Linked DNA regions of Homo sapiens: region 2 is linked to region 1. The links come from fine-mapping of genetic effects on gene expression. A gene starts in region 1. The other region holds a variant in brackets. All regions are shown on one strand. Distances are from middle to middle.

Region 1 (2,907 bases):
TGGTAAGTAGCTTGGATTTAAAAACAGGATCTAATTTCAAAGCTATTTCCACTATACACACCAAGTTACAACTTTCTTATCTCTCCTAAATTCTAAATTTTACATGATTTACCAAATCACTTCTTAAGTAAGAGTACTTATTGATCAGAAGTGTGAGACAAACACCTTATCCCACTTGTCCAATTTATTCAACAAGATTGATTGGGTACCTTTGTGTCTCTGACAGGTAACTTTCAACAGTTGTATTTCTTAAACTTTAGGTCGTCTCCCAAAAAAAACTGTAATAATTTGCTGCTTCTCTCAATATTGCAGGCAGTAAAATGATCCAAAATTACGGGTCATATCCACATTTCTTCATGATTGAGGTTAACTGTGCACTGTAAACCCCATATGCTATTAGTTTACATTTTCAACAGCACCCTCGCCACTTAATAATCTCAAACAGATTTTGGACTGTTACTAATTTAGCATATCCATAAAAAGTCATTTAAAAAATGTAGACGCTAAATTCTCTTTCAAGGTTGCCAAGCTTCACCAGTGTCTGTATTAAAATTATTTCTAAAATTTTACGGACTAAGGCATTTGGTACATTCAATTCTACCTTTACCAACAAAAGCCTTTACCACCAAGATGAGGAAAGCATCCTTTTCATTTTCTACACTGAAAAGGGGGGGGAAAAAAGGCCAACTGCTTGCATACAGGTCTGCATATAACACAGCAGTCTCTGGCAAAGCCAATAACTCACGTTCAACTTCAGAAATCCTGGTGGCCGGTAACACAGAGTAACCTGTGCGCACAACCCTTGGGCTTGACATACCACTTCATCCGCCCTCCCTTCCCATCAATCCACCCCCAAAACCCCAACCCACCAAGCACACGGCTAAATATGTCTTCCCCAAGAGAGCCAAAAACCTTGAAAACGCCGAGAAAGGGCTCCCCTTTGAAGGAAAGGGCCTGCCCTTCCCTGTCTGGGGCCCCGGCTGGCTCGAAGAGCCTGGCTCCTAGGAGGCCCAAATCTCGACGCCTCGCACGTCCCGCCCCGCCCCGGGCCCGCTCGCGTCCCCTCGGGCGACAAAACCCTCCCGCCGTCGCTCAGCCAGGACTGACAGTTACGGCTGCAGCAGCCGCGGCCACCAGGGGCCTACTTCTGGCACCAGCCCCTTCGGACCACGCGCCCCCAAACACTCGCCTCGGCGGCGGGGGGCGGGGAAGGGGGGTGTCGACCTCGCCACAGCGGGCCCCGAAGGCCGGCCGAGTGACGGAGGGGAGCCAGCGCCGCCTGGCGCAGGCCGCGGCAACACTGACCTGTCGTCGCCCCCGCGCCTGGGCTGCGGCGGCCGCCTCACTGGTCGTAGTCGCCCTCGCCCGCCGCCTCCGCCCGCCACCGCCTCGTTCTCTTTCGCTGCCGCCACCGCCGGGGCTCATGCGGGACCCGCGCTTCCTTATCCGGAAAACGAGGCCGGGAAAGGGAGCGCCGGGGCCGCCGAAATCCCGGCGTTCGTCGCCAGCCGCCGCTGCCTGTCCACACCGGGGGGCTGAGGGGCCCTCCTGCCAGGGGCTACAGGCCGCGAGCTATTCCGAGGAGGAGCCGAAGGAGGCGCCGCCGCCCGCAGCCGAGCGCGCCGGGTCGGCAGAGGTGAAGCGTAAGTAGGCGGCGGATGGCGGGCGCCCGCGCTGGCGGATGGCTACGCGGCGGAGGGGTGCGCGAGCGAGCGAAGCCTGGTGTGTCGGGTCCTGGCGAAGGGAAAAGGCCCCGTCGTCTCCTGTAGTCACCCCGAGCCCAGCGCCACCATCTTGGGAGACACACGGATCTCGCGGCCGCGGCGCAAGACGGGAGGACTGGCTGGGCGGGCCGAGTATCCCGGCAGGCAGCGCGCGCCGCCCGGCCGGGCGAGGGCTCCAGGCCGGGACGCGGGGACGTGGGGCGGGGCCAAGACGCGCGGGAGGGCGCCGCGCTCCGCCCCTCCTTCCTTCGCCGGCCCCGCCTCCCTCCCGCTTGCCGTCGCCGCCGGCGCACGGGCCATTGGGAAGAGGAGGTGGCCTGCGGCCCCTCGGAGTCCCACCAGGCTCGGTCGCCATCTTGCGACTGGACAGAAAGGGTAATCCCTCTTTTTAGTTTCTGCTGTCTGTGACCCGAAAGAATAAACCTGGGACTTCCGGAAGCCCTCTGGGCACCCCCCCCCCCAGGAGGGTTGCAGAGCCCCTTGGTGTACCCAGCAGAGGAACGCCTCAGACTTTGTTGGGAAACGAATGGCTCTGAAAGTTAGCTGAAGCCGCTGGAATAGCCCCCCAGCCCCGAGGCGGGGCAGGTGCCTGCCGTTATTGGCTTTTCGACCCCAACCCTTTTCTATCTGGAGCTGCCTTTGTAGATGTTGCAGGGGTGCCCCGAGAGTGCAGGCCAGATTTTAGAGGACCAAGGTCATCTACTTAGGCCTCTTGCCAACACAGGATGTGTCAACTAGTTTACCAGAGACGAAGGTAAAGTCCCGTCTCCTGCAGTTGTTGACGTTCAGTAGGTCGTCGGTTAAGAAAAGTGGCTCCCTGGTTGACCCCAGCTGGATAGAGGCTAATTTTGATCCATATGACAGCTGAACGTAGTTAAAGCCATTAAAATTAAATCCATTTAAAGTCATATTTGGTACCAGGGTCACCATTTTAAAAGGTGTGTGTGTGTATGTGTGTGTGTGTGTGTGTGTGTGTGTATAGCTTTACAACACTTGCTAGCAAAGCCAAAAGAGTATCACTAACAATTCATAGTGTTACAACTTGCAACTTTGTTGATAAGCCCTTGAAGTACTAGATGAGTACCCATGTCTAGTATTCAGATTTTTTATATCAACAGTCGTACATAGCAGTGTATCTTTTTTAAATTTATTTTTATTTTTAAACTTAGAAATGGTGTCTTGC
Region 2 (2,907 bases), 40 kb after region 1:
TTCCATATTTTGTTATTCAACAGAAAATCATTAATGATATGCAAAAACTAGGAGGAAGTGTTTAAAAAATAATGGGAAACTATTAATTCTCACTTTCCATAGCTCCTTTCAGCTTCTGAAACTAAGAACATTAATTTTCACTCAAGCCTGTCCAAGTCCTAAGAAAATCGTAACCAATCCTAAGCCCATATCAATAGGCTCTTCACCAGTTGGTTAAATCTGAATCAGTCTGTAGCCAAGAGTCTGTTGTGTGTATCCCAAGCAGGGCCCAGACAGAGGAAGAGAGAAATCCTGAGTCCATGCACCTGCCAAGTTTCAGTTTTCTTCTGTTCCAGTCTTTCTGGCATCCATTTCAGGTGCCGCTGACCTAGGGGGAAGGGCTACTGTAACCCACTTGAGAGGATGGTCAGCCATCACTCAAATTAACACACTTAGAAGGGCCCAGGAGAATCAGGTTTGTCTGGCGTTCAGCATAACTGTTAGAAAGTGCTAAGAAGCAGAGGGGTGTTTTTTGGTGTTCCTGCAGGCCTGGGAGAGTGGGCTCTTTGCCCTCTGGGGTGAGCTTTTCTCTGCTCTCACCTACACTGACAGATCTGCCATTTCTTGTACTACATCTGCCCTCATTGTCTTCCAGTCTCAAAGGATTGAGTGTCCTTCCCCTGTTGGAAGCTGGCCTACTCAGACTACCATGGTGGCACCAAGCTTTTACACTAAGGACGTTGTGAAAAATGAGAATTTCTGGGCCTTTCCCCCTTTGTGTTCTGATGCTGGGTGTTGCCCAGGGATTTTTGTCTTTAGCCCCCCCAGGAGAACTTCCCATAGGATTTGGTGGGCCTTCCTTGAGAAATACTCCCTGCTCCATGGAGAGTAACCATCCTCTCCATATTCATTTATTTTTATTGAGTCATTCCCTACTCTGTAAGTATGCTCACTTCCCCACTGAAAACAGAATCCTCTCTCAACACCTCTTCTCTGCATTCCTTTATAGTTGACTTCTCCCGAAGAAACAAACCCCATGCTTGTTGCCTGTTTCCCCACCTTTCTCCTCAGTTCTCTGCAGTCCAGTGTTTGTCCCCAGTACTCCACATTTACTCTTATTATCCTCCAAACAAACAAAACTCACCAGTCAGCTCCAATCCAGACCCTCCAACAAAGCCTGCAGAGCCCCGTTCCTGCCCCCTGGTCACGTGCAGCCCTGTCCTGTTCCTTGCTGTCTGCTGCCTTAGGGTCCCGGCTTCCGTATAGCTTCCTGATGTGCAGAGCCCTTTTCTGCCTCAGGCCTTTGCACTGCAGCTGTCTGGAGCTTATGCCCCCCACCGCAGGCTTCCTCCTCACAAGGGACTATGTCATGTTCTTGGTGTGACAGCATCCATATCAGAAAGAGGCCTTGCCTGTGAATGTGATTTAAAGCAGCTATCATTCTCTCTCTTATAGCTCCTGTTATTTTCCTTCAGAGTGCATTTCCTAATTTATATATGTTTTAACAAATTTATTGATACTTCCCCTCACTAGATTCTGAGTTTTGAAAGGCTAGTGGCCTTACTCGTGTAGTTCATCACTGTACCAAACCCAGTTCCTGAAACATGGTAGATGCTTTACTTGGAGACATAGTGAACCAATGATGCTGTTTTGATGGAGGCCAACTAATGACTCCCTAATTTCCACCTTCTCCACCTGAATGCAGAGCTG[C/T]CTGGGTGAGAGACCATGGCAAGCGATGACTCTGCAGAAAATCTGTGACTTAATATTTGCCCTGAGTGTTCTCAGTTCTCTGACAAACAAAGCCAGACACCCGGCACTTCACATCACTGTGGCTGATCCCACTGGTAGAAAGGCCTTGGGGAATGTTGTGTTTTAATGATTTCACTGAAAATAAAACTAAAAGCCTAGTTTCTTCCTTTGTACAGAAAAATGGTACTGCTGATGTTAACCTTGTGATTACAGGATAATTTCAATAAATTGCTAGAGACTTTTTGTTTTTTTTTTTGTCTTTGCAGAGTGAATGAAATACAGAGAGAACTACATCCTCCACTTCCTGTGTAGCATTGAGGTATTCAGATCCCCCTTAGGAAAGAAGGTTTCAGGAGCTTTGCCTCTCAGCATCCCTGTACACACAGCCTGGTTCCTGAGCACAGTGCCTGTCGTGTTCCCATCTAAGCCTCATTTCCTTTCCTTCTTTAGGGACATGAATCTGCTAGCAATAAAAATATCTAACTGGGTAATAATGTATGCAGGGTACACTGTTAGTGTTCCTAACTGCTGTTAAATGGTGATGGGCGTTAACTGGCATTTTGAATACAGCCCTTACAAAGCCTTTTTTTTTTTTTTTTTCCCCACTAAAGCTGGTGCCTGCGCAGGTGTCTAAAAAACATGCACAACCCCACAATGGAAACTGCAACAAGTTCCTAGTCCCTTCAAGAAGCTTTCTCAGCACATGAGACACTCTGAATGAGAGTCTGGACATTTGGTTGTTTTATTATTTAAGAATGTCTTAGAATGTAATAGAAATGAAATATAAATAAGAAATATAATTATGGCAAAGAAAGAAAGTAAATGACCACTATTGCTAAATGGCAAGGCTAGAAAACCCATGAGAGTCCCTTGTCCAGCATTAGTTTAGTAGAGATGGATACAAAATAAATAAGAAAAATCACTATAATACAGTTGGTTTCCTATGTGCTTCCTGGGATGTGCTTTACACACATCAAGCCCCTGTGATGCTGAGCAGAAACAGGGGCTTCAGGTTCACACAGGTCAGCTCTTGAGTACGTCTTTGCTACTCCTTGCAATTTCCATTATCACTGCCAACTTATCTGGGTCCTTCATACAGTTCATGTGAATTATTGGTAGTGAATAGCTCTTAGTGCTAGGACTTAGTAGCTGGTCAAATGAGGAGGGGAAGGACAAAGA

Which allele goes with the higher level. Positions count from the first base shown, and alleles are read on the strand shown. Sizes are in standard deviations (SD) of each study's normalised expression.
For the expression in thyroid of the gene that starts at base 1,841 in region 1, allele C in region 2 goes with a higher level than allele T (small effect, 0.20 SD a copy in GTEx).

The links. PIP is the estimated chance that this variant, and not a neighbour inherited with it, causes the effect.
Region 2: its variant is the best candidate, but not a certain one, in a credible set for the expression of UBE3A in thyroid (GTEx, PIP 0.65).

The regions. Positions count from the first base shown.
Region 1 is chr15:25,437,184-25,440,090 of GRCh38, forward strand. UBE3A (ubiquitin protein ligase E3A) reads right to left here and starts at 1,841. Exons shown (of 13, transcript NM_130839.5): 1 at 1,306-1,841. RefSeq lists enhancers at 957-1,902, 1,903-2,848 and silencers at 986-1,405, 1,766-2,105.
Region 2 is chr15:25,476,774-25,479,680 of GRCh38, forward strand. The region is part of intron 4 of LINC02250 (long intergenic non-protein coding RNA 2250); the gene reads right to left. Among named protein-coding and RNA genes, the nearest start is that of UBE3A, 39 kb to the left of the region's middle. The variant C/T (reference allele first, on the strand shown) is at 1,690.